Linked DNA regions of Homo sapiens. The protein of the gene in region 4 interacts with the protein of the main gene of each other region in a pairwise test. Each region holds a gene or a part of one and is shown on either strand. Other genes may lie near its edges.

What was found.
Region 1: the proteins of FAM117B (region 4) and MAT2A interact in binary tests that used the Homo sapiens proteins (3 or more experiments, as listed by UniProt).
Region 2: the proteins of FAM117B (region 4) and PIAS4 interact in binary tests that used the Homo sapiens proteins (3 or more experiments, as listed by UniProt).
Region 3: the proteins of FAM117B (region 4) and GPC5 interact in binary tests that used the Homo sapiens proteins (3 or more experiments, as listed by UniProt).

Annotation. Positions count from the first base shown.
Region 1 is NC_000002.12:85,532,715-85,542,284, reverse strand, and holds the start of MAT2A (S-adenosylmethionine synthase), read right to left. Parts: upstream 3,118-9,570; 5' UTR 2,998-3,117; coding exon 2,907-2,997; intron 1,203-2,906; coding exon 1,125-1,202; intron 1,031-1,124; coding exon 908-1,030; intron 653-907; coding exon 540-652; intron 457-539; coding exon 313-456; intron 131-312; coding exon 1-130. UniProt on the Homo sapiens protein: Catalyzes the formation of S-adenosylmethionine from methionine and ATP. The reaction comprises two steps that are both catalyzed by the same enzyme: formation of S-adenosylmethionine (AdoMet) and triphosphate, and subsequent hydrolysis of the triphosphate.
Region 2 is NC_000019.10:4,009,639-4,018,292, forward strand, and holds part of PIAS4 (E3 SUMO-protein ligase PIAS4), read left to right. Parts: intron 1-309; exon of another isoform or gene 310-776; coding exon of another isoform or gene 777-860; intron 861-3,284; coding exon 3,285-3,711; intron 3,712-8,654.
Region 3 is NC_000013.11:92,863,587-92,868,357, forward strand, and holds the end of GPC5 (glypican-5 precursor), read left to right. Parts: intron 1-2,695; coding exon 2,696-2,853; 3' UTR 2,854-3,651; downstream 3,652-4,771. UniProt on the Homo sapiens protein: Cell surface proteoglycan that bears heparan sulfate.
Region 4 is NC_000002.12:202,637,244-202,645,897, forward strand, and holds part of FAM117B (protein FAM117B), read left to right. Parts: intron 1-8,654.

The DNA.
Region 1 (9,570 bases), about 120 Mb from region 4:
TGACTTTCTCCTTTAGGGCATCCCTCATTTCATCAAGACAAACCTCTTCATCATGCTGAACAGATATAACAATTGTGTGGACTCTGATGGGAAGCACAGCACCTCGATCCTGCATATACTGCACAGTAACCTTGAAGGCAACACAGGTCATCAGAACATCACACCAAACAATAACTTTGTATTTGTTTCTCTACCTGAAGTTACAATATAGGAAAACAAATGCTATTTTTTCCAGTTAGCTATTATCAAAATTATGGATCTTCTGTGCTGATGTAATAAATGAGACAACCAAGCTTTATGATCATCACTTACTTGAGTTTTAGAATCAGGGCGTAACCAAGGCAAAGTGCCATTACGGCGTAGTTCTGCCAGTTTGGCATTTAGCTTGTGTGCCAAGACAATGGTTAAAGGCATACACTCCTCAGTTTCATCAGTGGCATAGCCAAACATTAAGCCCTAAAGAAAGAAAAGTCACCAATGTGATCAAGCTCCAGAATTTAATGTTAGAAGAGATTAAAACAGCCTCTACACCAAGATACCTGGTCTCCAGCACCAATGTCTTCTTCATTTCTGTCAAGATGAACACCTTGAGCAATATCTGGTGACTGTTGCTCCAAGGCTACCAGCACGTTACAAGTCTTGTAGTCAAAACCTATAAGCAAAAAACACAACATCTTGTTTACGTCCTAGAAATACCTGCTGTTTACAGCAATTATCTGGAATTCTAAACACTGCTGAAGAAATCAAATATACCTAAACCATCGGACCTTTTAGAGAATGAACAGAATAGGGCTTAGTGTATAGTAAGATACAACTGGAGTTTAGGATTAGCAGGAACATTCTAGGAGTTTCTTCAAACCTCACAGCTGTTACCTAGAAAAAAATGAGCAAAATCATTAAAACACACCTTTGGAAGAATCATCATATCCAATGTGTTTAACAGCTTCACGAACCACTTTCTGGTAGTCAACAGCAGCTCTGGATGTAATTTCCCCAGCAAGAAGGATCATTCCAGTTTTAGCAACAGTTTCTAATAAAAAGAGACATTCAACTCAAACATCACTTCTATAAAAATAATTTTTATGCTATCTTTCCACCAGTTGATAAGCACATTCTGAACCTACCACAAGCTACTTTGGCATCAGGATCCTGCTGAAGGTGGGCATCAAGGACAGCATCACTGATTTGGTCACAAATCTTATCTGGAAAAGAGAAATTCCTGGCTCAGTTTCTTTAACTTTAAACAAAGTATGTATGTATGTATGCAAGCTCCCTCCCTGTTACTATCTGTAAAATCTTTGGAGATTTTAAAAAACATGCTTAATACATCTTAATTCATTGTGTTTGCACTTTCCTCCTAAAATTCAAAGTTTGCATTATAAATCTAATCACCAGAAAGGTGAACTGTTAGTCCTATATCCTTTAAAGAACAGAATTTGCCCTATATCATATTCACTTCCACAACTGTACCAAACCCCTCTGCACCTGGGAGTCTGGTAGAACTGAGGCCACAGGTAGGCCAGTTTCCCTAATCTTAAGGAACACCAATTATAATGAGCAACAAGATAATTCGATTAAACAATTAAATGAAAAGCATTTTCTGACTAAAATGGCAATTATCTGATTTTGCTGTTAGGAGTTGCGCAGGAAACAAAAGCTCAACAGTGTAGAAGATGCTCAAACGTATTCCGAATCCATGTCTCCCTGCTTTGTCATCTATTGTTAGGAGGGAGAACAAATATCTCCCTAATTCAAGTTCGTTTTTCTGAATTTTCTATAACCGCCTAAAACAGAATCCAAACATAATGTGGAAGCCAGACTGCAGGCTCTGAACTTCGGTCTACTACTAACTGGTGTAACAGCTAACCTTCAGCACTCATCAAGATCCTGGGTTTGTCCTCTCATACCACTAAGTTACTTGTGGGATTTCATCATGGGCACAGTAAACTGACCAGACCCTAAAGCCACCAGATAGATAACTACTGCGGTCATCCTAAGGGCAGAAACAGCCAAAAGAGCCAAATAATCATCTTTACTAGCCGATATGCTCAGGCTGAGATTTTCAGTTCCTGGAAATATAGCTTTACTCCTCCTTCACGTGCCAATTGATCCCCATAATGGCGGTTGAGCGGACAAAGCCTCAAGTAAAACCCTGCACCGAAGACTTTAAATGCGAACCCAAAGCAATGGCAGCTCCTAATTCATGCTTCCCATCCTTTTCACAAGGGGTCCAAATAAGGACTGCCTTCTTGGACATGAGCTATATTTAGTCAGAGGCCGTCACCTTGGAGGCAAGGCCATATCCGCCGAAGGGCATGTGCGTATTCTCCAGTGTGTAGTCAAGACCTAACCACTGAGGCAGTGGAGCCAGACGACGTCCCAAGGCATAGGCCCCCCACCCCTCAAACTGAGGGCCAGGACAGCCGGGGAGGCTCACGGCTCCCCCTCGCCCAGATACCACATGCGGCAAACACGTGGTCGCCGCTGCAATGCGGGGCGCGCGCTCCCGAGGGCCGGACGCGAGCACGCGGGGCGGGTCGCCCACTCCAGGTTTGTCAGACGGCAGGGCCGGGAGGGGTTAACAGTGCCCTCCCTTCCCGGCCAGAACTCACTAGCGACCACAGCCCCCGCCCTTCACGTTTTCTGGAACCTTCCGCATGCCTAGGCGCGCGACCGAATGAAAAGGGAGGGGGGAAGGGAAGGGTGGAGAGGGGAGGGGGAAGAGGAGCGGCGGCCACGCGCCAGGCCCTGGCGGCGCCACGAGGAAAGCGCGCGGTCGCCGCTCTTCCATCACCCGGCGGACGAGGACGACCCGCGCGGGCCCCACCACCGGCCGGCCGCAGCCAGCCGGACCTTGGCGCTGCCTTCTGCCCCGCCCCACGCTTCGCTTCAGGCCGTCCCCTCACCTGGGTGGCCTTCCCCGACCGACTCTGAGGTGAAAAGGAATGTGCCCTCCTCGATGAACGCCTCGTGGAAGCCGTTGAGCTGTCCGTTCATGTTGGTGTCGGTGTGCGGAAGTGGCCTTACGAAGGAGCAGCGGCGAGGCGGCAGCGGCTGCGAAATGCGCAAGCTGCGGACAGCGTTCTACTCGTAGCAGGCGGGCGGCGCGGAGCGAACGAAGCAGCGGGCGGTGCGGCCCGGTATTTATAGAGCAGCGCCCGCGCGCGCCCGGCTCGGGCCCCGCCCCTCGGCGCCGCGCGCCAATGCACCACTTGCGCGGGGGTCGGGGGAGGAAGGGCAGCTCGCCCCGCGGAGTCCGGGCTGAACCACACTGCGCGGCCGCGGGAGGTGCCGTGGCAATCCGGCCCTCCAGAGACCGTTCAGCTATCTTGAGCCGCTAGAGCTAGGAGAAAAATGCAGACGCGAGGAGACGTGGGGGATTGCTCTTCCTTGTTTGATGTGGGAGAAAAAGCGACTGGGGCTTGCTGGACCCGCTCCCCTGTGCGGTGACATGGCACCTCCCTTCCGACCGTTGGCCGGGATAGCTTTCCCGGAGGTCGCGTCCCCCAGCGGAGGCGGCGGGAATCGCGGAGGTTTTGTGCTGCGGCTGGGGTCTTTCTGGCCGTCCCGCCTCTAGATGCCGGGTGGCAGGGAGCCGGTGGCGGTCGGCCATGTGAAGGTGGCCATCTTGGCCGGCCAGCGAGGGCTCCTCACGGCCTTCCTTCGGCGTCCCTGCCCGGCTCGTTGCCGGCCCCGGGATATCTGAGGGGCGCAGGCCCACCTTCTAGTCGTTTCCTGGTGAATGGCTCTGCTGAAGATGGCCGGAAAGCAGATTAATGAAGGTGCTGCCATCGATTTAAACAATCGCCCTCCTGCCCGCTCCCCTGCGCTAAAGTTTCTGAGGGATCCTCACCCTTCGTGGTTCGTGGACTTAAAAGTGGAGGCAGCGCTCCAGCCTTTCCCTCCAGAGAGAAAGGAGGCCGCTCCCAAGTCCGTCCTTGCCCCGTGGCCTTCCTGTTCCTTTGAAGGGGGGGGGAATCGATGTTTCAATCCTCTGTTCAGGAGAATATGGAACGAACATTTCTTTTTTGGTGGGTGGGGGCTATTCGTTCCCTTGAATGTGCTTAAGCAGATCTCTTGACGGCGTGGAATGGGCTGTTTCATGAAGCTTTCACTTTAAAATGTCCACCTGCGTTTGTCCCAGTTTTGCCCAATAAAGGAATTACAGGGAAAAAGAGCGAAACAAAACTTGAGCCAGCAAGGAGTATGGAGTCCCGTTTGGAGGGAGCCCGCCTTGGGGGCGGGGGTCTCTGCAGCCTGTTCTGGGGCTGGGCCTCGGTGCAGGTCTGGTCGGGCTGGTGGCCTGGTGGCCCTGAGCGGAGCGCGTGACAAGAACGCCGGGTTTAATGAGGTTCTCAGGGAACGGCCTGCTCCTAGCATGGGATGTACTTTACGCTGGGGAGGTGAAGGAGACCCCTAGTAACAGTCTCCAGCTGCCTACTGCTGGCGGCAGTAGAACAAGGTGCATTCCCAAGAACAATCCTCTCCGTCGGTGCAGGAGGAAAGGTGGGATTTGCTAAAGGCTCAGTGGGAAACAAAGGAAGCACTTGGGCTGTGCTGGGGGCATCCACAAAGAAGATAAAGGGCTCCTCCCCAGACTCAGTGACCACATCCACGGTCGCTCAAAGCAGGCAGCAAGAAAAGGTTCGACCACAAAAGAGACAATAGGTGATGATATTTTTATTCGTTGCTTTTTACTTTTCAAGCTAACCCTTCATGGGAAAGTAACTGTATAAGACTATTAAATTTTTTTGTTATTTTTTAAAGGAGAATGCCAATTTATTAACTTACAATGTGTAATAAAATTGTCAACTGGAACAAAATGCGTGTGTAGGCTGGTCAGTGCATTATCTCCCAGCAGAAAAATCTATATGGGAAGCCAGAATATAACTAGAAGGTTATTTTATTAGGGAGTCAGAACAAGGAGCGTAAAGTCAATGATTGGCTCATTAAATCCTGATACCCCTGTGCTACCAACTCCACAGTGGGGCTAGGCCTGCCAAGGAGATGAGATTTAGCTGTACATAGTTGCTTACCTACTTCTCTCACTTGTGAATAGTGTGTAGGTGTAATACAGTAAGAGTAGGGGTTTGGAGTCACGACCTCTCTATGCATCAGTATCCTCGTTCTGTAAAATTGGAATATTAATAGTACATCATAGGATTGTTTCAAGGATTCAAATAGTGCAAGTAGAGTCTTTAGCACAGTATCTAGTACATAATTTGTTTTAATGTAAGCTGTAAAAAAATTAACTATATTTGCTGTGAATTACTTTTCAGTGGCTTTCAATTGCTGTCGGGATACGGACTAAAATCTCTACATACTCAAGGCCCCAGTGTGATTTGGCTGCTACTTCTGCAACCTTACCTTGTGCCACACTCTCCTTTCTGTGTTCTACTTGGATTTTTTAGTTAGTAGCAGTTAATTTTATTAATTTCATAGTATCAAAACAAAGGAGGACACATTTTCATTTATTTTATATTATTCGTATTGTCCCTTCCTCCCTTCCACAAATATTTATGAGCACATCTGTGAGTCAGACCCAGGAGCAAATGCTATAACAATCCTGGTCTCTGCCCACTCGGCGCTCTAAATGTGGGGAGATGCCTGGCTAACTCCTTATCCTTCTCACTCCAGCTCAGCTACCACTTCCTGGATGAAGCCTTCATCTACACAGATTTGTCACAGGGGCCTGTGTTTTATTTCATGGCACTAAGTGCAGTTTCAAATTATAGATTTGGTGATTATTTGATGAATGTCTCCAATTCCCAGTTAGGCTTGTAAGCTCCATGATAATGAGAAGGTGGGCTGTTTTGCTCAAGCTTTGTTACTGAATGCCTGGCACACACAAGGTGCTTAGAAATGTTCAAGAGGGAGAGACAAGAAAGGAAGGGAAGGAAACGGAAAATGAACGAATATAAAGATGGCAGAAGGGGGCGGGGCACGGTGGCTCACGCCTGTAATCCCAGCACTTTGGGAGGCCGAGGCGGGGTGGATCACGAGGTCAGGAGATCCAGACCATCCTGGCTAACACGGTGAAATCCCATCTCTACTAAAAATACAAAAAATTAGCTGGGCGTGGTGGCGGGCGCCTGTAATCCCAGCTGCTTGGGAGGCTGAGGCAGGAGAATGATGTGAACCCGGGAGGTGGAGCTTGCAGTGAGCTGAGACCGCACTACTGCACTCCAGCCTGGGCGACGGAGCAAGACTCCGTCTCAAAAAAAAAGATGGCAGAAGGAAGCAGAGAAATGAGAGACTCTGGCGATCATGTGAAATCAATGGAAAGAGGTCCTGCTTTGTTTTAGTCGTAAGCATTGTAATTAATAAAATTAAGACTTCTTTGTTAACAGGGAAGCACATGGCCATCCTGTTCTGACAGGAATAAGATTTCTGATTTCATAGATGCGTGTCCTAAGGGTGAACTAAACCAGGAGAAATTGTTGGTTTATTTCCTGTTTATCGTTAATGAATTTGTTGAATGTGAAGTGTTGTAAAGCACGTAGGAAAAATCTAATCACTGCCTAAAGGCTTCAGATTTCTCAAGCCAGAGAACATTAATGTAGCAGTAACCCTACAAAAAAGGCAAAGTTGGGATTGGATAAAAATGGTATTTGTGACTCAAACAGCAAATAAAATAACTCCTTATTAGCCTGTCAGTCATGGGGAGAGTTCCAGAAAACATTTGCAGTGCAAGAAGCTGTTGATGTGGCAGGAGAAAAGAGGAGGGTGACAGTAGGGATAGCAAAGAGCAAGTGAAGGTGTGGAGGTGTTGAGAAGGAGGTTCCTAGGCTGTGTGTCTTAAGAGCACCTTCTATGTGAAGACAGACCAAGAAGAAAGAAATGTAGGCCACGTCTCCAAATTTGTGGCAGTTCTTTAGGGCCAAAGCTTAGATATCTCGGATGGCCTCAGAGGCAAGCTAGTTCTAGTGGGATCAGAAACAAGTACTATGTGAACCCCCTCATTATTAGGCTTTTTGTATTTTGTTTTTATTTCTATGTTTTTCTCTTTTGATACTTAAATCTTTTTACAGTCCCAATAAAGAAGTCCTGAATGGAAGAATAGATATGGTACAGTGAAGAAGACACTGAAGGAGATAATAATATGATGACAATAGCTACACTTTATTGTGACAGGCACTGTTGTAATATCTACTACTCACAACAGCTCTATTTCTCTTCCTGTTTTACAGATGAAGAAACTGGCATGTTATTCGTCCATGTCACACATCAAATCAGTAGTGGAGCTAGGGCCTTGAGCCTGGTCTGACCTCTAAATTCATGCCCCTTCTTATAGCCAAACAATAAATACTGCATACTCCCTGAGGTCGTTAATATTAACAATTTGGTTTATATCCTCCCTTTCCTTTTTCTGTGAACACACACACGCACACATCTTACTATTCAGAGAAACATGGATTTTTTTTTTCTTAACAATTTTCATGACTGTCTCTCCAGGATACTATGTAGAGCTGTAAATCATTTCCTTCTCTTTTACTGTGGGAAAATATATACAACATAAAATAGGTAGCTCACCAAGGAGAAAATGCAAATTGCAATAAACATATGAAAAAAATGCTCAACCTCGTTGATAGATGTGATGTTAATATATGTGTGAATTTATATATGTTTTTATCCATGGTTCCTGGCTCATAACTCCCATAGCCCTTGTTATACAGTGTTTCGTTATAATGTTGAGAGTGTTAGGACTCAGGAGCAGGCCTCAGGAAACAGAATCTCTCTGACTTTTTCCTGCTTCTCTTTCACCTGCCCCAAGGCAGGACTCTAATCTTGCCCTGCCCTTCTGATCATGGGTCATAAGACCCTCATTCCAGAGAGGGTCCTACCCCATACCCTGGGACAAAGAATGCTGAGAGGACTGGGTTCAGAGAGTTTCTGGAGAGCTGAACAGGTGGAGGCTGACAGGAAAGTGAATAAGAACTCATCCACGTGCCAGGAGGGTGGCACACCCCAACTCCATGGTAACAGAAGCTCCTACACTTGGGACCCTCCCAGACCTCACCCTATGTATCTCTTCATCTGGCTGTTTGTTTGTATCCTTTAAAATAACCAGTAAAAATGAGCAAGTGCTTCCCTAAGTTCTATGAGCCACTCTAGCGGAAAAAAAAAATTTTTTTTTTTTGAGACAGAGTTTTGCTCTTCCACCCAGGCTGGAGTGAAGTGGCGAGATCTCAGCTCACTGCAGCCTCCACCCCTGAGTTCAAGTGATTCTGCTGCCTCAGCCTACGAGTAGCTGGGATTATAGGCGCCTGCCACCATGCCCTGCTAATTTTTGTATTTTTAGTAGAGACCGGGTTTTGCCATGTTGGCCAGGCTGGTCTTGAATTCCTGACCTCAGGTAATCTGCCCACCTCCGCCTCCCAAAGTGCTGGGATTACAGGTATGAGCCACCGTGCCCGGCACACTCTAGCAAATTAATCAGACCTAAAGAGGAGGTGGTACCATGACTGTGGTCTGTATGGATCTTCACCTTTACTCTAGGGGCAGGAGATACGTGGGAATGCTGTCATCTGCTCTCCTTGCAGGTGGTCCGGTAGCTGCACAGACAGTGACCCTTGCTGGACAAGTACCTGGTTGATAAAATTGCTCAAAACCTGCAAATATACTACACATGGTCCACTGCTGTAGTGAAGTGCCGGCCCCCTGTACCCCAGTGACTTGAAACTTTTTAAATATCTGACAAAATCTATGGATCTCCCTAGAAATCACACACACACATGGACAAACATTTTATGTATAATTTCTGAAACTTAACCATATATTGCAAGTTAAGAATCCTTGCTAGGGCCGGTGCGGTGGCTCACGCCTGTAATCCCAGCACTTTGGGCGGCCAAGGTGGATCACCTGAGGTCAGGAGTTTGACACCAGCCTGACCAACATGGTGAAACCCCGTCTCTACTAAAAATACAAAAATTAGCTGGGCATGGTGGTGCATGCCTATAATTCCAGCTACTCAGGGGGCTGAGGCAGGAGAATCACTTGAACCTGGGAGGCGGAGGTTGCAGTGGAGCTGAGATCACACCACTGTACTCCAGTCTGTCGGGACGACAGAGTGAGACTCCGTCTCAAAAAAAAATTTTTTTTTAAATCCTTTGGTATCTCTCATAAATTTAAATTCACATTCCCTAGTATCTGCAGTCCCACCTCTAGAAAGCTATTCTAGTCCAGGCACGGTGGCTCACGCCTGTAATTCCAGCACTTTGGGTGGCCAAGGTGGGTGGATCACTTGAGGTCAGGAGCTCGGGACCAGCCTGGACCAACATGGTGAAACCCCGTCTCTACTAAAAATACAAGAATTAGCTGGGCGTGGTGGTGGTGCCTGTAATCCCAGATACTTGGGAGGCTGAGGCAGGAGAATCACTTGAAACCCGGAGGTGAAGGTTGCAGTGAGCCGAGATCGTGCCACTGCGCTCTCGCCTGAACAACAAGAGTGAAACTCTGTCAAAAGATAAAGAGAGGGAGGGAGGGAGGGAGGAGAAAAGAGGAGGGGAGGGGAGGAAAGGAAAGCCTGGCGCGGTGGCTCACGCCTGTAATCCCAGCACTTTGGGAGGC
Region 2 (8,654 bases), on a different chromosome or scaffold from region 4:
GCCTGGACCCTGGGGAACCTTCTTTCTCCTTGAGTCTGTTGCTACCTCTCCAAGTACCTTAAATGTCATTGAAACATCCCCTTCTTTACAGGGGCCTTCCCCAGCCTGTCATATTCATGGCTGCAGATTCTGTCTTTTGGGGTGCATCACAGACTGCTCGGAGGGGCGAATGTTGGGGGTTTGTTGGTGAACTTTGAAATCTGAGACTCTCAGCTTGAGGCCTGCAGGCGGGTTTGGGGCAGGGGTGTCTGTGAGCTCCCTGAAATAGTCCACAGCGTTTCGCACAGATCTCCGCTTTCCTGGAGAGAGGCGCCTTCCTGAGCTACCCCCGGTGCTCTGAGGGGCCTATGCTGGAGGAAAGGTTCAGCGCAGCTGCTGTGTCTCGGCTGATGTCTCCCCATGCGACTTCCAGGCAAGCCTGGAGTTGAAACTCTGGAAGCTGCCGGGGCCTGGCACTGTTTATAAACACAGCTCTGACGGCAAGCAGGTCAGCTTGAAGCCAGGGCAGGAAGTGATCTTGGGGCATTTGGGGCTTCTTCCTGAATGCTTGTCCCCCCCGCACTCCCTCCAGTGTCAAGGGCAGGCTCCTCCGAGGTGGCAGCTGCTGGGAAATCTGAGTCGTGAACATATGGCCACCTAAGGGGTGTGCTCCGGGAAGCGGGAGCTGCGGCTCCACTGTCCAGCCTGGGTGGGGCAGGGGCTCCCGGGGTGCGAGGATGTCAGCAGGTTCCCCAGCCCACCTGCCTTCGGCCAGTCTGCCAGTGTGAAGTGTCCACATGACATCGTCTCTCCCTGCTAAGGCTTTGGGCCACTTCCAGAAGAAACATCTTGTCTGCAAGCCTTTTTGTTTTCTGCACAAGGTAGGAAGTCAGGCCAAGGGAGATGAGGCATTTTTGTTTTCAAAGCATCCCTGACTCTCAGGCCCAGCAGACCATGCAGGTCCCCATAGCCAGTGTGCTGGTGAGTGAGGGTCCCCCGGGCAGCAGACGGGAACACCCTTGGGAGGCCAGAGGCCGAGGGGCCGATGCCAGTCCCACGCATGTACTAGGGAGGCTCTGGGCCAGCCTCTTCCCTCTGTGAGCCTCGGTTTCCTCACCTACACGATGGGTGTCCTCATTGTGAAATTAGCGACACAGGCCTTGCTGGTGCCTGGTAGGGAGCAAGACGCTGGCATCCCGATTCTTTACAGTCACGGGGCCCCGCAGCCCTGATATGGGAAGAGGCTTCTCCCGAGGCTCTTTGGGCAGGGCTGGGCCGCCTGCACGTGTGTCCCTGTCATTTTGAGCCTGGACAGCCTCTCCGTCTCCAACAGGACCCTGGCCCGATACAGCTGGAAGAAATCAGAGCTGACAGATGAGGACCCGACAGTGGGCCCCGGCTGCTGCAGCTTTGGTGCTGAAATGTGCGGCTAGGCTCCTGGTCTCACCCTGGGGCAGCCAGGAGCCGGAAACCTCAGCGCCTCCTGGCACGGAGGCTGCAGTTTACATACCCCACTGGGACTGCCTCTGGCTTCGACCCTCAGGGTCTTTCGAGTGGAGTTTGAATGGTTTATTGGTTTCTTCGGGTACCCGCCAGCTTTCCTTAACACCCTTGACGCTTGAGCTTTCTCCCCATTCCTCCTGGAAGCTACTGTTTCCCACCACATCTCATTCATCCCAGGCCAGCTTCAGGGCTAAGGGTGGGTGGCCCTGAAACCCTGCCAGCCCATCCCTCGAGGACACCTGGCTTCTGCAGCCTGTTGAGGAGCCTTCCTTCCCCTTCAGGGTCCTACCCCTCATGGAGGTCAGGCCACTGCCAGTCTACCCCACCTCAAACACCAGGGTCAGCTGGGCTCTGCTGTTTGGTTTTTATTTCGCTGGAGAGGCCCGGCCAGGCGATGAGGGCCAGGTCCTGCCAAGCCTCATTTGTCGCTTTGACCCAGGTCCTGCAACAGCCCCTGTGGCTGCTATCTTCCCCTTGGACCGGTCCCCCAGGGACTCAGGGCAACGTGTGGAGGTGTGTTTGGTGTGGAGGTGTGTTTGGTGTGGAGGTGTGGGGGGTGTGGAGGTGTGTGGGGTGTGGAGGTGTGTGGGGTGTGGAGGTGTGTGGGGTGTGGAGGTGTGTGGGGTGTGGAGGTGTGTGGGGTGTGGAGGTGTGTGGGGTGTGGAGGTGTGTGGGGTGTGGAGGTGTGTGGGGTGTGGAGGTGTGTGGGGTGTGGAGGTGTGTGGGGTGTGGAGGTGTGTTTGGTGTGGAGCTGTGGGGTGTGGAGGTGTGGGGGGTGTGGAGGTGTGTGGGGTGTGGAGGTGTGTGGGGTGTGGAGGTGTGTGGGGTGTGGAGGTGTGTGGGGTGTGGAGGTGTGTGGGGTGTGGAGGTGTGTGGGGTGTGGAGGTGTGTGGGGTGTGGAGGTGTGTGGGGTGTGGAGGTGTGTGGGGTGTGGAGGTGTGTGGGGTGTGGAGGTGTGTTTGGTTGTCGTGAGCTGTGGGTATTTAGCACCACACAGAGCCCAGGATGGCCCCAGTGTCCACAGGGCCAAGGAGGAGAAACCCTGCCTGGGATGATCAGCAGATGTTTCGGAGGCCCCCACAGGCCCAGCCCTGTGTTGACATCCAGAGGGTAGTGTGGCAGCAAGAACCGCCCCTGGCTTCAGAGCCAGGCCTGGGTTCGAATCTTGGCGCTGCCACCTCTGAGCCGACAGTTCCTCATTTGTGACAGAGCTCACACACCAGCCTAGCAGGGGTGTTTTAAGGATCAGAGTTAAATATATAATCACATGACCGGCTTGGTTCCCGGCAGGTGATTAGTACTAAGTAAACTGTGGCTACCGTTGGCGAGACCGAAGGGAAAACATATCTGTGGCTGACATGGGTTGAGCGCCCGCCCAGCCAGTGCTTTATGTCATTATCCTCCCGACGTAGAGACTGAGGGTCAGAGAGGCATTTGGTGTTTGCCGGTAAGGCACTGGCAGAGGCTGTTTACAAGTAAAGCACAATTGTCAGTTCCTGCCCTGGGGATGCTTTCAGGCTGAAGACAGGGAAAGAGAACCTAAAATAGAAGGGGGGGCCTAGTCAGAGGCGCTTTTGCTGCGTTGGCGATGCTGGGGAAAGTTTGATGAGGAGGAGGGAGGGGGCAGGGCTTTGCTGGGAGGGGGCACCGTAGGGGCAGGGCACTCCACCAGCCCCAGCCAAGGCTGGCGCTTCCTGGCGAGTGGGTGTCTTTCACGGCCCCCACATCGGGGCCTGGCCTCCATGGAGTCCCCTGCCTCGCAGCTGTGTCCTCTGAGTGTGTGTGTGCTTGCTCCTCCTCAGAACATGGTGATGAGTTTTCGAGTCTCCGACCTTCAGATGCTCCTGGGTTTCGTGGGCCGGAGTAAGAGTGGACTGAAGCACGAGCTCGTCACCAGGGCCCTCCAGCTGGTGCAGTTTGACTGTAGCCCTGAGCTGTTCAAGAAGATCAAGGAGCTGTACGAGACCCGCTACGCCAAGAAGAACTCGGAGCCTGCCCCACAGCCGCACCGGCCCCTGGACCCCCTGACCATGCACTCCACCTACGACCGGGCCGGCGCTGTGCCCAGGACTCCGCTGGCAGGCCCCAATATTGACTACCCCGTGCTCTACGGAAAGTACTTAAACGGACTGGGACGGTTGCCCGCCAAGACCCTCAAGCCAGAAGTCCGCCTGGTGAAGCTGCCGTTCTTTAATATGCTGGATGAGCTGCTGAAGCCCACCGAATTAGGTGAGTGGTCACCCTGGGGAGGCTGCGACTGGAGGCTTCACCTAGGCCCCGTCGCCCAGCCCAGCCCAGCCACACAGCCGACTTCGAGTGATGTTCTCTGTGGCGCAGCCAGGGCGGGGAGCCACAGTGGCCAGGGGTGTCCTTCCTCGGAAGCAAAGGGACCATCTTTGATATTGGTCACCCCTTGCTGTGTTACAAGTTACCCCGAAATGGAGCCACTGGAAGCAGGGGGCGTCTGTTAGCTCTCAGGAACCTGTGAGCTGTGTTGCGGGGCATTGGGGCTTGGGGGCTCTCATGAGGCTCAGTCAGGCTGGAGCCACCTCATCTGGAGGCTCGACCAGGGCTGGAGCAGGCACATCCTTGTGTGGTGGCTGGCAGGCCTCAGCTCCTCGCCAGCTCTTGGCCACAGTCCCCAGGTCCTCATGGTGCGGACTCCTGCACGGATTGCCTGGGCGTCCTCAGCCTGGTGGCTCCCTCACCCTAGGGTAGCGAGTGTGCACCTCCAAGCTGGGAGCTGGAGCCCTTTTTATAACCCAACCTCGGACACGCCTCGCCATCTCCCCCACAGAGTCCGTTGCTCACACAGACTCTGTGGCGCATGCAGGGACCACACCAGGCTGTGACTGCCAGGGCCAGGGGTGACCAGGGCCACCTGGGAGCCTGGTTTCCCTGCTTATTCCCCTTGGAAAGGGGGCTGGCCAGTGGCATCCTTCCCCCGGGCTCTGGTTCCTCGCTGGCAGCCTGCAGGAGTGTCCTTGGTCAGTGGGCTCAGGTCACTGCCAGGCTGTGTGCACCGGGCGTGCTGGGGGTTCAGGGCGATCCCAGGCGGAGGAGAGGTGCTGGGCTCCACGCTTCTCTCTCTCGTGTCTTTGTCTGCAAGCACTGACTGAGCAGGAACTGTGTGTCAGGACCTCATAGCCCACAGCAGTGTGGACAGGCCCCTGGTGCCTCCCCAGCAGCCGTGGCCATTCAGGCTGCAGGTGGGCATTGAGCCCAGTCTCTGCCTCAGCCATAGCCCTGAGCTCAGGGCCAGGGAGGCCTCCGCAGCCCCAGCCCCCAGGGCAGAGAGAGTGTGCAGCCTCTGGGACTCCCAGATAGGGAGCGGAACGTCCTGGGCCTTTGCGGACCTGTGCCTTGAGGCGCTCAGATTTCACCAAGTCCTCTGTGTGCCTGGAGGTCTCTCCGTCTCTTCTTCCTGCCTCCCCTCCCCTGCCCCCACTCTTTCCTTCGCACAGTAAACATCGGAGCGCCTGCTGGGTGGGTGCGTGATGGGCACCAGGCGTGGGCACGCAGCAGGGAACAGGACCAAGGCCACGAGGTTCAGAACCCTGTGCATGCCCCCTCCCACCCTGCTGACCCAGCAACCTGCCTGGCCCCTGCTGTGGCCTGAGGGCCCTTCTCTGGCACGCTTCAGTCCATTGGGTGCCAGCTGGCCCCCGCTCCCCTGCCCAGGGAGGCAGCGTTGATGGGGGTAGGGGGAAGGGGAACTGGCTGCTTTTCCCCTCCCATCTGCAGCCCTGGGACTTAGTGAGGTTAGGCTGGAGGGGCTGTGCTTCCAGGTGAGGATGGAGGAAGTGGAGGAGGGAGGAAGGTGCTGTCGGTGGTTCCTGCGGCAGCCGAGGCTCCTCCCTCCAGCCTGAGGCTCCGCCTTCCAAGTGAGGCTCCGCCTCCACCTTTTTTCTCTTGCAGGAGGTGTCTAGCAGCAGCCTCCTGGGGAGCAGGTTGGCCCAGTGGCACCTGTCCTGGGGGACTCAGGGTCTTGGCCTGAGTTCCATCGGACTGACTTTCCCAGCCTTTGCTCTCTCATGAGGGAAGCTGTTCCCCCTGCCAGGTTCTTGGGCAGAGCTGGCTGTCTCTGAAGGTTGGGCCTTGGGAAGGACCTGCATCACAGGGAGGCTGGGCTTTCCTGGGAGCGGCAGGGCAGGCTTGGTCCAGGGCGGGGGACGGGGCTGACCAGCTTCCTTCCTGCACGGGGACCAGTAGCTCCGTCCCACAATACATCGCTGTGCCCTGAGCCACCAGGGACCCCGGTCACCTGATCTCCGGGAGAGCCTGCTCCCCTGTCTACACCAGTGTGCCTGTGCTGGCGGCTCAGAACAAAGAGGCCATCCCCACCCTGCCTCTCTCTCCCACTGGCTCTCTCTCCATCTCAGGCCGCCAGGTGAACCTCCTTTCCTGGATTCCGTGCTCTTGGGGGACTCCCTGGGGGCCACCTCGGTCCTCAGAAGTTTCCTGGAGCATAGCCCCTGGCCCCGAAGCAGTGGTCCCCATGGTTTTAGGACCTGAGATGCCATCTGTCCGCCCTGACCCTGGGCTGTGTCCCTCCCCAGGGTGCACTCTGTGGTGCTGGCCTTGCCCGGGGGCCGCCTCCGGAGGACCCAGTTCCACCGGCTTCTCCCTCACTCCCTCCTCTGGCTGTGACCCACCGTCCAGCGTGAGGCCCACCGCTCTGGTCTGTTTCCCCGGAATAGCCGCCGGCCGGCTCCAGGATGGAGACCGCGCCAGGCGGACAGGAGCCATAAATCACGCGGTGCGGAATGCTGGGCTGGGGGAGGGGGTGACAGAGCCACAGAGCAGGCTGCAGGGGCCTCAGGCTGTAGGTGATCGGCTCCAGTGGGAGGTGCCGTGTGTGGGGACGGGGCTGGCACCCAGAACAGTGCGGAGAACGGCCCAAGGTCGCACAGCGGCCTGCCTTCCCTCCTCCCGAGCCGACTGGCTCCTGCTCCTGAGCAGAGGCTCTGGCCTGGACCTCTGCAGGCTGGGAACCCTGTCCTGCCTGTCGGCAAGGAAGCCGGCGCCACCCCTTTCCAGCCTGCGCCACCTGGGGAGTCCGGCTAGGGAGCCTGACCCTCCTGTCAGGGTACTTGGGAAGAGAGGCTGTCAGGAAATGTGGGGCAGAAGGAAGGATACATGCTGGCCGGGCACAGAGCTGCTCCTCCAGGGTCTTGGCCCGCAGCGGGCACCCCGAGGAATCTGCCTGCCCACCCGCCTGCTGTGCAGAGTGGAGCCCCTGTCACCACGACTCCAGATGCCCCCAGAGGCAGATAGCCCTGGTACCAGCCAAGAGCCGCCGGTCTGGCATGTGCTGTGCTGTGTGTAGGCACCTGTGCCCTTCAGCCTCTGAAGCCCTTGGGCCAGCATTGCCCAGGCCACAGCAAGGTAGCGTGGTCCCTGCTCAGGTGCAGCACAGAAGTGCCAGGTGATAAGTCTCATGGCACACGGAGGGCTTTCAGGGGCAGCTGTCAGTAGCAGGAGCCATTTACTCTACATTTGTGAGGAGGTAGCAGTCAGGAAGGCCTCCTGGAGGCAGCAGCGTTTCAGTCCAGACCCGAGGGTGACTCTCAAGAAGCCAGGCAGAGAGGAGGGGGCAGGGGAGCGTATTCCAGGCAGAGGGCAGTGAGGGCAGAGGCCGATGGCCAGAGAGGGCTCATTCATGGGGCTGAATGGAGTTCATTGTGGCCAGAACATGGTGCGCCCAGGAGGAGGGACGCAGTAGCCTGGGCGCGGGCGGCAGAGGCTGGAACCCGAGAATGGTGGGCCCGGGGAAGGCTGGGGGCTACCCTGCTTGCCCCGAGGGCTTCAGCGCCCCTGAGGTTCTGGTATGATTTTTGGGGTCAGTGAGGAAACTGAAGTGCAGGAGGCAAGTGGCCGTCTGCCTTCCACAGCCAGGCCTGCTGCCCGCCCAGGCCCACCATCTGTCCGTCTGCACACTGGGGGCCTGGATGGGCACGGAGCGTCCTGTGTCACTGTCCCACATGTGGGGTAGTCTGACCCACTCAGCCCGCTGGCACTTCCCATACCTGTGGTTGGGGAACAGGGGGACTCCGCCAGCTCTGCCCCAGGTCTTGGCCTTCAGGTTGAAGAGGAGGGATGGGCCCACTGCTACCAGATGGGGGGCTGCCAGCAGCCACCCCCATGTCCCGCTAGTCCTTCTCCCATCCCCTGTGGCCCCCTGCCCTGCCCAGCCCAGCTCCCCAACCTGCCCGCTGGCTGCAGCCTCCTGCTCTGCTTCCTGCCCACTGGTCCCCCTCCCATGGCAGCCTGTGAATGTTTTCACTGATGGGTAGAGTGGTCGGCATCACCCCTGTGCCTAGCCAGGGGCACCTGTTCCCCGCCCCTCCAGGACAGTGCCCCCTGTGTCCCTCATACCTGACTGTGCTGCCTCTACTCTTGATCTGGGGGACCTGGGTTGGGGAATCAGTGCTGGTAGCTCTTAGCTGGACAGGGTGGGTCCGGGAGTTAGAGAACTTGTATGTGCCGGGGAGGGGACAGCCTGGGGAGGGGGCCAGCACATGGGCCAGCTGGAGGGGGAATGGTCCCATCCGATCAGCTTTTTTTTTTTTTTTTTTTGAGATGGAGTCTGACTGTCGCCCGTGCTGGAGTGCAGTGGCGCGATCTTGGCTTACTACAGCCTCCTGGCTTCAAGCGATTCTCCTGCCTCAGCCTCCCAAGTAACTGAGATTACAGGCACGCACCACCACACCCAGCTAATTTTATGTACTTTTAGTAGAGACGAGGTTTCACCATCTTGACCAGGCTAGTCTTGAACTCCTGACTTCAGGTGATCCACCTACCTTGGCCTCCCAAAGTGCTGGGGTTACAGGCGTGAGCCACTGCGCCCAGTCTCATTTTTTGTATTTTTAATGGAGACGGGGTTTCGTCATGTTGACCAGGCTTGTCTTGAATTCCTAACCTCAAGTGATCCACCTGCCTCGGCCTCCCAAAGTGCTGGGATTATAGGCGTGAGCCACCAGGCCCGGCCCCAGTCAGCCTTTTAAAAACTCCCTGTGTTTCATTTCTATTTAAACTTGTACAATTATGCGCTTGTCCTAGAAAACTGGAGTCAACAGCAGAGCAGTCCGGCCGGCGCCCTGCTGCCCGAGTGGGCCGCCTCGGTACACCGGGCCGGTGCTTGCCGCCTTCTCCCTTTGCATGTGTGATTG
Region 3 (4,771 bases), on a different chromosome or scaffold from region 4:
GAGTTCAAGTGATTCTCCTGCCTCGGCTTCCCAAGTAGCTGGGATTACAGGCACGCACCACCACACCTGGCTAATTTTGTATTTTTAGTAGAGACGGGGTTTCTCCATGTTGGTCAGGCTGGTCTTGTACTCCCGACCTCAGGTGATCTGCCTGCATCAGCCTCCCAAAGTGCTGAGATTACAGGTGTGAGCCACTGCTCTCGGCCTACCATATTTCATAGCACCAATCACCAGGTCTGTCTCTGTGTAATAATATTTCCTTCATTTTTTAATAACGCAATTTTCTTTCCCCATCAGACCATAAACCACTAAGAGCAAAACTATGAATTTATTCACACCTTTGTGTGTTGCTGTTATGCATATAAGAGTATTCAAAAATTACTTTGTTTTTCTTTAATGTATTAATACAATAAATCTCCAAACTAATTTTTTCTTTTATAGGTCTTTATAAGCCTTGGTATAATTTATAAGCTTGGTTAATTAAATTTCTTTATGAAAATAATCATTGCATCAAATATTCATGGAGCTAGAATTTTTGGCATGCTAATGTCTTTTTACAGATGACAAGGTTGTGATTTGATCCATAACTACGGCCATGACTGCCAGGCTCTTGAAAAGATCTTGAATTCTTTTCACATACTTATTACTCAAAGGCCATATTCCTTAGAACTGTTACATTTATTTATTAGTAACACCTTAATGTAAGATGGTAAAATAGCATCTGATTGAAGGCAGAAAAGCTCTCCTGCCATTGTCTGGCTTGCAGGCATAAGATTTAACATCTTTCTACTTACATATTTTCACCCATGATGGCATCCACTAAACCTAAATCAGTGTCTGGCTCATGAATGAACAAAATATAAGCTCAGAATGGCATAAGAAAACCTTATTCATGGATCCCATCCAAACACAAATTCACAATGCTTAAAAATGAAAAGTAAATCCTGTAATGCTCAAATTTATGTAGTTATCTTAGAAAAAAAAAATATTTTTAATTGCCTGGAGTCCTCATAGCTTCTTGTTAAGCTTAACAAGAGGTATAAAGCCATGACTAAAATATTCACACTCCACTCTAGTCCCTATTTAAAAAAAATAAAAAAGGGAATCACTAGTTTATTCATCTTGCCTAATGACACAGAAGGGCAAAACAAGCACCCAAACAATGAATAATAATGTAAGAGCTCAGACTGTAAAATCAATATGTCAGATCAGCAGAGCTTTGCTTCGTTTTAGTGCTCTCATGTCTGAATGCAGCACAGCTTATCTTCTGAATTATATATATATATATTGGCCTAATTACATAAATATTGACTTTTCCTTATATGAAGTTTATTCTTTCAATCTCTCTGTAATTACCATGTCAATATTTGTGGCTGTAGTAACAATGAATTTAAATCTGTTAATTGTGACTGATAGTGGCATGCTATGAGATAATTCAGTCACTTAGTCTCAGAACACTGATGGCACTAGATAATAAGTGATGAATCAGTAATTCCCTAGGTATATCGTACTAAGGTAAACATCTTTAAAAAGCAATTCTTTCAACCCAGTTAATTAAGGGGATAGTTTTTTCCTCAACTTGTCAGGTTTCATAACGTACGGAAGTAATAACCAGAATGCGACTGGATCTTGGTGTATGACTTTGCCCGCTTTTTTTTAAATGAAACACTTTATCCCTAACTTCATTCTCCAGTCCACCCATTAACAACTTCTTTGATCTGTTGATAGATATCTACACCTCCATCCTCACAGCTGTATGTGTGTATGGAAGATATAATTTAACATTTGTTGCTATTATTCTTTGCTATTTGCTATTTCCATAAAGGTCCTAATTCCTGATCTCACTTACATGTGGAATCTAAAATAGCTGAAGTCATAAAAGGGGAAAGTAAAAGGGTGGCTGCCAGGGGATGGATGTGGGGAAGGGAGGGGAGATGGTGGTTGGAGGGTACAAAGTTTAGTTAGACAGGAGGAAGAAATGTTTTAGACCATTGCGCAGCATGGTAACTATCATTCATAATGTACTGTATATTTCCAAATTGCCAAGAAGGTACATTTCAAATGTTCCCTCCACAAGAAAAATGCTAAGGATGTGAGGTGATGGATATGCTAGCCAGCTTGACTTTATCATTCCTCCTGGTATACTTGTCAAAATATCACATTGTACCCCATCAATATCTATAAAATTTGTCAAGTAAAAATGAAAATAAATTTGAAAAAGATCTTAGGCCTACTTTATTCTAATGTAAAATATGATCTGTAGAAATTCTACTTTTAAAAAATATTTTATTCAATTATATCCCCTCAACTGGTTTTATTTTCATGGGAAAAGTTTTCAGTTACTGAAGGTGATAAATCTCTGAAACAAGAACTAATCCCATACCTAGGATATATTAATTAATTAAATGTCTTCACTTACTTACCAGTGGCAGAGAAATGTTCCAAAAATTTTAAAAAGCTAAAAATCTTTTCACTTTGCTCTTATAATATTTGAGAATTTTCACACAAGAGCTTGAACTCTCCAATCTAAGTAGGACAGAAATACCTGTGTCATATTAATTATGTTAGAGTTAGGTGAACATAGAGAATGGTCCCCAAAAACAATGCTGTCCACACTTTGAGTTTAAGAGTTGTTCTAGACGTATTATGGTGAAGTGGTCATGCATCACCTGTGCTTTCTTATTTGCCTCTACAGGGATGCCAGATGATATGAACTTCAGTGATGTAAAGCAAATCCATCAAACAGACACTGGCAGTACTTTAGACACAACAGGAGCAGGATGTGCAGTGGCGACTGAATCTATGACATTCACTCTGATAAGTGTGGTGATGTTACTTCCCGGGATTTGGTAACTGAACTCTTCTGTCCTGACATACCTTACTGAAGTCTCGATTTCTTCTCTCTCTGCATATGCCTGGAATAAGAGATCCTTTTTCAATGTAACAATTATATTTATGAAAAGATATGTTACACTAACTTCTCAGAAGCCAAGCTGAAATATTCATAAAGTCCCTAAAACTCAACGTTTAAATGACACACTTTAAAAATATGTCTTTTTTCAATCTAACTGAAAACCTTCTTAACTTCTAATATATTAAATCTGAAGATGTGAAGGGCACAGAAGTGACTTTGAATAAGAAGAATTTAGTGTATCTGTAATTTTATTATCAATTCCAAGCCCCTTCCTTTCTAAATTAAAAATGTTTTCATTTGAAAGTGTATTTGCCAGACAATGAAAACAGTATGCAGTATTTCTTAAAGTATTGAAATTAGAATATCATGAAATAAATCAAAACATACAATGGCAAGTAGTATGCATGCATATTCAAGAGACTCTTCCATTTTTGCAAGCTGTAGAAGGAAATGTCTGAATGTCTATAAGTTATGGGGTAGATTCTTGAGAAGCATTTCATATAATTTCACTGAAGAACCTTGATAATTTTGACCCACTGTAACTTAGCCACTGATGAACCTTAAAGCTGAGTATTTTATTAACACCTGATTTGTATTCCATTATATTCAAAATGCATCTTTGGTATTGTGCCTCTGCTCCCATCTCTCTCTTTGCCTCATAGATTTAGCTATGTTGGGAAGCACATGCTTGCTCTAGGAATATCTCCAATAAAGCTGTTAACTATTTGGTGGAAAAATTTGAAGAATATTTGTCATTTTCTTCTGGCAAAAATGCTATTTTCACCCATTTTCAAAATATTATGTACTACTTTTTAAAGCCTGATGTTGTACAATTGGCTACCTTTGCATTTCTAAGGTTCCTATGAATATCTGCAGACATGTACAGAAAAGATGATATGCAACACTTTAGCTCTTTCCTATTTGCTCATTAATGGAGCTGCAAACCAACAGTCCCTAATTTCTCAGTTGGGATAAGTTGCCTCAATAGACACTAATAGGATATGTATATGGCTATACTTGAGGAAAAGAGAAGTTAGTTTTTATTAATAAGTATCACATCCAGTCTACAGAGAGAAAATATAATTAATACAAAGTCACAGAATAGAAAAGGGAATTGCTGACCTCAAATAAAAAAAAACAAAAAAAAATTTGAAATGACTTCTGACAAAGACGTAAACAAGACACAGCCAAATGCAAACATTAATAAGGTAAAATCCGTTTCTGCTAGTCAGGAAACAATATATGATCAAACCTTGTTCTCGCTTAAGTTCTCAATTAACAAAATGATCTAAGGATGGTTAGTTTAAATCACAACATTTTTAAGCTGCCCAATCAGGTTTTACCCTCCATTCAAACATGCCTCAGAACCGTAAGTGTTATTCTACCCATCAGTTGTGGATGCCATTTTCCTAGGCTTCCATTCCACACCTAACATTCCCTGATCCATTCAGTTAATAACTCATTTGCACTCACCTTGACACACTCCACAAATTACAAACTTAACCCTATTTTGAAAATTTTTTACTTCAACCTCAGCTCTTCATTTAAATCAGTCTTGGAAAAAAGTGATACTAAGGCACTCATTTGCTGCCCTCCAGCCCAAGTCATGATTGGCTTGCTACGGCAAAATTTCAGACCCAACTTAAGAGGAATTTAATTCTAAAGACAAACAAACTGAAGAGCATGCTTTAGCAGTCTAAGATATATGGATAAAATTAATTGACAGAAGATAATTTCAGATATGGCAAGAAATGGACAAAAGCAGAGTGGTAAAGTCAATACAAGAAATGATTATTTTTTTTTAAACTAAGTTTTACATGCTCAGATGGGTGTTATCTGCAGGTGGGCACTTTGGGG
Region 4 (8,654 bases):
TTTATTTTTATTTATATTTTTATTTATTTTTTGAGACGGAGTCTTGCTCAGCTGCCCAGGCTGGAGTGCAGTTATGTGATCTCGGCTCACTGCAACCATGGTCTCCTGGGTTCAAGCGATTCTCCTATCTCAGCCTCCCGAGTAGCTGGGATTACAGGCACCCGCCATCATGCCCGGCTAATTTTTGTATTTTAGTAGAGATGGGGTTTCACCATGTTTGCCAGGATGGTTTGGAACTCCTGACCTTATGTGATCTGCCCGCCTTGGCCTCCCAAAGTGCTAGGATTGCCCAGCCCAGAGCACTATTTTAAACCTTTTGAGAATGCAGAATGCTTTTCTAAAACTGTGATAAAAGTACTAGATTTCCCCTCCCTGCTTCATAACCTCTGTCACCTACTGAACTCTTACTATTTGGCAGGTGGTTTTTATGCAAAATCTCATTTAACCCTCACTATAGCTTTTAGAGAGGTTAAGTAACAAGTGGCAGAGTTGGTATTTATTTGAACTTTGGTCAGTTGTACTCCAAAGACCATGTCTTTATATTATATCAAGGAAGTGACATCATGATGTGTAAGATAGAATGTGGGAAATATATAGCACACCAAAATTACATGTACTTAGTTAGGTAACTTTTTTTTTTTTTTTTTTTTTAAGATGGAGTCTCACTCTGTCACCTAGGCTGGAGTGCAATGGGGCAATCTTGGCTCACTGCAACCTCTGCCTCCCGGGTTCAAGCGATGCTCCTGCCTCAGCCTCCCGAGTAGCTGGGATTACAGGCATGCGCTACCACGCCTGGCTAATTTTGTGTTTTTAGTAGATACAGGGTTTCTCCACATTCGTCAGGCTGGTCTCAAGCTCCCAACCTCAGGTGACCTGCCGACCTCGGCCTCCCCAAAGTGCTGGGATTACAGGCATGAGCTACCGCGCCCAGCCACTAGTTAAGTAACTCTTACAGATATGAACAAAACTGCTTCAGTCCTTCAGCCTTCTGGAGCCAGCATAGTGCATCAGGTGGAAGGGAAGGAGCTGGCTTATAAGTGGGCAGTAGAGGTGGCAGAAGGAGGCACAGCCTGTAGTCTGATAACAGAATCTGGCTCTCTTAACAACTGTTTGACACTCAGAGAAACACCCTGAGGAGAACTGGGTTGAATTAAGTATTGGCAAGGTGTGGAGGAAGGTACTCTTTTTCTCTGATCTCTAGGAGGGCTCTATTTCCTGGGATGTCAGGCTACTCCCATGTCCTCTCTTCATGGTTTTTGAACGCTCCCCTTCCCTAGATCATCCCGTAGAGTATTTGCTGTAAAATTATCCCCATTTGCTCCCCTATCAAAATAAATAAATAAATAAATAAATCCAGAAAAATAAAAACTCTTATTTCTCAAAGTGTAGTCTGTGGTTTATCTGTATCAGAATTAGGGTGTGTGGTATAATAAAAAATAATTTGGCCAGGCGCGGTGGCTCACAGGGGTAATCCCAGCACTTTGGGAGGCCGAGGCGGTGGATCACCTGAGGTCAGGTTTAATACCTGTGTTCCGCCAACTAGAAAAATAAAAACTCTTATTTTTCTAGTGCAGCACTTTCACTTGGGTGTGAGAAATATTGTCTGTTATTAAGTCATACTCTAGTTTGAATGTCTCATAGTTTCATTCCCAGGAATTGTTGTTTCACTCTAGTAAATATCCATGCAGAGTAGAACAAAGTGTTTTCAGATTTCAGGTGTTCATAACACACACAAAACTACGATGAAATCATTTGCTGTTTTTATCTGACTAAATCTGGAAGGAAAGTCTTTGTAAACGTCAGAGTCCCTTTTTCATTAAAGGGAGGCTACCACCAGTTTGCAGCTGTGATGAATGTAAAAATCCCTACCGTAAAGGGTAAGGGTCTACCCCATATAATTCTATAAACCTCATAGGACTCAAATTTCAGGGTCCATCTAGATCAGGCTGTTGACTTCTAGGTGTCTTATCAGATGAACTGGATGCTGTAACCTTTGTTAGGGATCCGGTATCTCAGAGTCCCTAAGTTGAAGGTATCAAGATCCCTATCCAGTTGCTTTATTCTTCTAGGGTTAGAGCTAATTGGCTGGTGTAGAACTTCCTACTCTTGACTACTATAAAGTAATCCAAGCACCCATCCCTGACAGATATTTTAAACTTCCCACCTTCAGTGACTGTCATCTCCATAGCAAAGCCGTTTGTCATTAGGAACTGAGGTATGTTTAGAAAAGGTACCTAGGCAACAGTGTTAACCAGAAAGTTTATTTTTGTGCCTTCTCTCCTTTTACCCAACTTCATTTTACTTATTAAAATGTCAAATAGATTACAAATGGAGAGATGGTATAACATCGAGGTGAGGAGGATATACTTTGGGTAGACAGTTTGAGTTTAATACCTGTGTTCTGCCAACTAGAAGCCATGTGATATGGAAAGTTATTTTTCTTATCTGTGAAATGGGTGGTGAAATCTACTTCATATGATAGTAGGGATTAAATAAGGGAAAACTGAAAAACAGCACAGTACCTCAGTATAAAAGTTAGCTGTTGTGTATCATATTAGTTTTGCTTCTAGTTTTAGTGTATTTAACATAAATTACCAGTGTAGGTTCAGTTTTCATGGTTGTATGAAGTTTCAAATTGGTGATAACATTGCCTGTGAACATCCAGAATGGTGTTTCTCAAAGTGTAGTCTGTGGTTCATCTGTATCAGAATTACTTAGGGTGTGTGGTATAATAAAAAAAATTTGGTCGGGCACGGTGGCTTATACCTGTAATCCCAGCATTTTGGGAGGCCAAGGTGGGTGGATGACCTGAGGTCAGGAGTTCGAGACCAGCCTGCCCAACATGGCGAAACCCTGTCTCTACTAAAAATACAAAAAATTAGACAGGTGTGGTGGCAGGCGCCTATAATCCCAGCTACCGGGGAGGCAGAGGCAGGAGAATCACTTGAACCCAGAAGGTGGAGGTTGCAGTGAGCCGAGATTGTGCCACTGCACTCCAGCCTGAGCAACAAGAGCAAAACTCCGTCACAACAACCACCACCACCACCACAAAATATATATATATATATATATATATATATATATATATATATATATATATGGCAAGTCGTGTTCTTGCTAGTTTCCCCCTTCCTTTGGATGTATTAAGTTGTGTATAAATTCGTTTGTTTATTGGAGTTGGGGAGTGCCAAGGGCAGCAAAAAGTGATAACTTCTTTGGACTAATAGGCAGAATCAAGAAGCAAGATAACCAGAACTTATATTTGTGTCATCTTTGATGTCTACTTTCTAGTACCTTATGAAATATGTCTCTAAGAATTTAGTGTTTCTCTAACATTTGGAGGATTGCTGCTAACATTACACATTCAAGGGAATTCTTTTTTTTTTTGGAGACTGGGTCTCTGTCACCCAGGCTGGAGTGTAGTGGCACGATCTCGGCTCACTGCAACCTCTGCCTCCGGGGTTCGGGTAATTCTCCCGCCTTAGCTTCCCGAGTAGCTGGGACTACAGGTACATGCCACTATGCCCAGCTAATTTTCTGTATTTTGGGTAGAGACTGGGTTTCACCATGTTGCCCAGGGTGCTCTCCAACTCCTGAGCTCAAGCTATCTGCCTGCCTCAGCCCCCCAAAGTGCTGGGATTAGAGGCACGAGTCACCCACACCCGGCTAAAGGGAATTCTTTTGGTTTGTGATGTCTATATTTTGCAATGAAGATGAGACAAAGTAGAAACTATTAGTTTTATGTCTTGGCTAGTAGAATTTACATTTAATTAAGTTAAATTCTGTAAGCTTTGATTGAACTACTCTGTGTTATTAACAGTGTAATACAAAGATGTAAAACACACAAGGAATTCCAGAGACTCACAAACTAGCCATGTAAGACAGATACATAAGCATATAATGTGATGAGTTTTCTGGCTTAGAGAGTGAATAATTCCACAGGGGATGGGTATAGAGGTTCCCTCAGAGGAGATGAATTTTGAATTGGATTACAAAGGGAAGAACAGAACTTTGCAGTTGGATCTTAGAGGTGTGAAAATAAGCCTATCATATTCAGTTCTTTGTGGCTTGAAATGTAGGGTAATAGGGTGTTGGGATGGGGAGAGCGGAAATAGTAGAGAAAGAAGGGAGAGACGTAAGTTTTCAGAATGACTTTGAATAGAATATATACATTAGAAAGTATTCCATGGTTAATAGTATGTACTCTGGAGCCAGACTGTCAGGGTTCAGACCCTGGAGTTGCCATTTACTTGCTAGCAGTTTAACTTTAGGCAAGTTCACTTTACTTGTAAAAAGGGGATACTAATGATACTTACCGTAGATAATTGTTTCAAGGAATAAAATCTTTGTAATCTGTGTGTGGGGTATAGGAATCTCAATATTAGATATTTTATTTTCTTTTTTTTTTTTTTTGAGATGGAGTTTCACTCTTGTTGCCCAGACTGGAGTGCAATGGCAGATCTTGGCTCATTGTAACCTCCGCCTCCTGGGTTCAAGCGATTCTCCTGCCTCAACCTCCTGAGTAGCTGGGATTACAGGCGCCTGCCACCACGCCCAGCTAACTTTTGTATTTTTAGTAGAGACAGGGTTTCACTATGTTGGCCAGGCTGGTCTCGAACTCCTGACCTCAGGCGGTCCATCCGCCTCGGCCTCCCAAAGTGCTGAGATTACAGGCATGAGCCACCGCGCCTGGCAGATATTTTCTTTTTTTTTTTTTTTATCGGAGTCTTACTCTGTCGCCCAGGCTGGAGTGCAGTGGTGTGATCTCGGCTTACTGCAACCTCCGCCTCCCAGGTTCAAGCCATTCTCCTGCCTCAGCCTCCTGAGTAGCTGGACTACAGCCGTGTGCCACCATGCCCGGCTGATTTTTGTACTTTTTTTTTTTTTTTTTAGTAGAGACGGGATTTCACCATATTGGACAGGCTGGTCCTGAACTCCTGACCTCGTGATCTGTCCGCCTCGGCCTCCCAAAGTGCTGGGATTGCAAGCGTGAGCCACCACGCCCAGCCAGATATTTTCACATCATTGTCTTCCTTCTCATCCAAGGCTTTAGGCACTCACAGTTATTATTACTAGTATTTATATTCTTAGAATAAATAGAATATATATATATATATATATAAAATGAGTAGAGTGTGACTTGAGATAGGAGAAACTCACAAAGGCATTGATCACCTGAATTTTGGGGGAATGGCAGTGGGAATGGCAAGAGTAAAAAAGATTGAAAAGACTGATTTGGCAAACTGTTGGATGTAGGGATTGAGAAACGGGGAGTTGAGGGTGATAGTTTGGATGGTGGTTCTAATTGATAACAGTGAGGAGAACAGATTTGGGAAAAGAAAATGAACTCAGTTGTGGATGTATTTGGTTTGTGCTCTCAGGAACTTCAGATAATTTTCTAGATTGTGGCAAATAACATTTTAAAACTCAGGGATACACTTTGAACTTGGGGGTAAAAATTAGGACTCATTTATTGCAGTTCAGTAAACATTCATTTAACATGTACATCATGCTAGGCATTTACATGTGGGCAACACTCGAAATGACTAATCACTAGGGTGGATAAAATGATAGGGAAAATGCTGAAGATAGAACTCTGGGAGGAAACAAGCATTTTTAAGGGTAGAAAGAAAAGCCAGTGAAGAAACCTGTGAAATGTGGTAGGAGGAGAAATGGTAGAATAGTGTTGAGAAAGCCGAAAAGAAAGATTGTATTTCAAGGAGAGATAGGAAAGATTTTCAAATGTCGTGAAGTAGGCTGAGCCTGGAGAATAGGCCTTTGAATCTGGCATGTAGATTAGTCAATGATCTGTGAGAGAAAGTAGTTTGAGAAGCATGTTGGGGGCACAAATCAAAGTGGAGGATGAGGAAGTAGAGGTAATGAGTATAAAGTACTTTAATGTGGACGGAAGGAAAGTGAAAAAACTGGGTGAAGGGTGTGCTTAAGCTTCAGTTATTTACAGGATGTGGAAAACTTCAGCTTGTTTATAGCTTTTAGGGAAAGGATTTATAGAATGAAAGATTGTAAATTCAAGAGAAGATGGTAAATGTAGATGGAGCAAGGTTATGGAAAATGCGAGAGGCATGGGATCCAGTACATGGTAGAGTCTGGAAATCTCAGAAACAAGGACATTTTTTTCTCTGAGGAGGGGAAGAGGTAAGGGCGTAGGTTAAGATGATAGGTAAATCAGCAGTAGAAGGGAAGGAAGTTGAGAAAGTAAGCTACTTCCTTTTCCAAACTACTTGAAGGCAAAAATAGCATGCTTGTCTTTATACTATATTTTTAAATTTAAATTTATTTTTTTAAACTACGTGTGCATAATTTAAAATGTCAAATAGCACTGAACTTATTATCAAATAAAATGTTCCCTTGTCACATCTTTCTCCACTCCCTCTTCCTGCCCCCTAGAAACAACCACTTTCAACTCTTAGAGGTTTCTTTGGCTGTTTACCTACACATTTCTTTTTCTTTCTTTCTTTTTTTTGAGACAGAGTCTCGCTCTGTCACCCAGGCTGGAGTGCAATGTCAGGATCTCAGCTCACTGCAACCTCTGCCTCTTGGGTTCAAGCAATTCTTATGCCTCAGCCTCCTGAGTAGCTGGGATTGTAGGTGTGTAGCACCATTCCCTGCTAATTTTTGTATTTTTAGTAGAGGCAGGGTTTCCCCGTGTTGGCCAGGCTGGTCTCGAACTCCTGGCCTCAAGTGATCCACCCGCCTTGGCCTCCCAAAATGCTGGAATTACAGGCGTGAGCCACCGTGCCTGGCCTACACATTTCTAAATAATATGCTATACTACTGCTTTAGGAGCTGTTTTTTTTTTGTTTTTTTTTTTTTTTTTTTTCAGTTTTATGTATTATGTAGTGACTTGCTACTGTGGAAAATGTACACTTAATTCTCTAATCACCATCCTACCGAATCCTTCCATTGTAGGTGTAGCATCTTTTGGTTAAATCAGTATTAATGTTATTATGACCATGTAAATATTGATTACAGTAGAGCCTTGTTGGATACTACAGTTATATTTTCTTTTTAAATAACTTTTTGTGGTCTTTGAGGTTAAAATTGTTTTTCATTTTGATTGCTTCGTTTTCTATGTACCTATCACAAATTTATCCCTAAGAAAGTTTTGATAATGGAAACTTCCTGTAAATAATTAAAAACATAGCAGAGAGTTACTTTTGTTTATTTTCCTTGGAGATATGTCTTTTGGAGTCCCTCATCCTCATATTCCAAATTAGCTCATTGATCTCTACATCTGTGGCACAGCTATTAGAACCGGGAACTTCCCTGGGAATTCTCTTCACTTCTCTCCTGTTTTGGATACTCTAATTTCTGGATGTTGTTTTGCTGGAGTGCATTTTCCAATAATTTTTTGAGAGAGGATACATGGGAGGTATATGTTATACCCAGACCTTGAATATCTTCAGTGATGTCTTTATACTTGCCGGTTTGACTGGGTATAGAATTAGAATTGTAGGTTGGAAATAATTTTTCCACTGGGTATTGAAAGCACTTCATCTTCTAGCTTTTGGAATTGCTGTTGAGAATTTGGATGCCATTCTGATTCTTAATCCTTTGTTGGTGATGGTGTCTGTCCTCTGTGGAAGGGTTACCACCATTCTGAAATGAGGATTGCCTTGTTGTGAGGTGTTTCATTGTTTGTTTTCTGTTCACTGTGCTGGTTACTCTGTGGGCTTTTTCAGTCTAGAGACTATTTCTGGGAATTTTTCTTTTATTATTTCTCCTTTCTGTTATCTTTGTTTTTTGTCTTTTTGGAAGCTGTGTTATCTAGTTGTGGTATATCTTGGAGCACATCTGTAATTTAACAATTTCTGTCTAGTTTCCGTATCTTTATCTGTTTGCATTTCTTTTTTATTATTTTTCAAAATTTCAAAATATATTTTCTTTTAAAAAATAGAGACTGAGTCTCGCTGTATTGCCCAGGCTGGTCTGGAACTCCTGGCCTTAAGTGATGCTTTTGCCTTGGCCTCCCAAAGTGCTGGGATTACTCACGCCTGGCCTGTTTCTTTTTTTTCTTTCTTTTTTTTTTTGTTTGTCTGTTTTTGAGACAGAGTCTCGCTGTCGCCCAGGCTGGAGTGCAGTGGCGAGATCTCGGCTCACTGCAGGCTCCGCCCCCCGGGGTTCACGCCATTCTCCTGCCTCAGCCTCCCGAGTAGCTGGGACTACAGGCGCCCGCCACCTCGCCCGGCTAATTTTTTGTATTTTTAGTAGAGACGGGGTTTCACTGTGTTAGCCAGGATGGTCTTGATCTCCTGACCTCGTGATCTGCCCGCCTCGGCCTCCCAAAGTGCTGGGATTACAGGCGTGAGTCACTGCGCCCGGCAGCCTGTTTTTATTTCTATCAGATTTATTTATTTGAGACGGAGTCTCGCTCTGTCGCCCAGGCTAGAGTGCAGTGGAGAGATCTCGGCTCACTGCAACCTCCGCCTCCCGGGTTCAAGCAAGTCTCCTGCCTCAGCCTCCCGAGTAGCTGGGACTGTAGGCGCGCGCCACCACGCCCAGCTAAATTTTTTGTATTTTTAGTAGAGACGGGGTTTTACCAAATTGGCCAGGCTGGTCTCGAACTCCTGACCTCAGGTGATCCGCCCGCCTTGGCCTCCCAAATGCTGGGATTACAGGAGTGAGCCACAGCG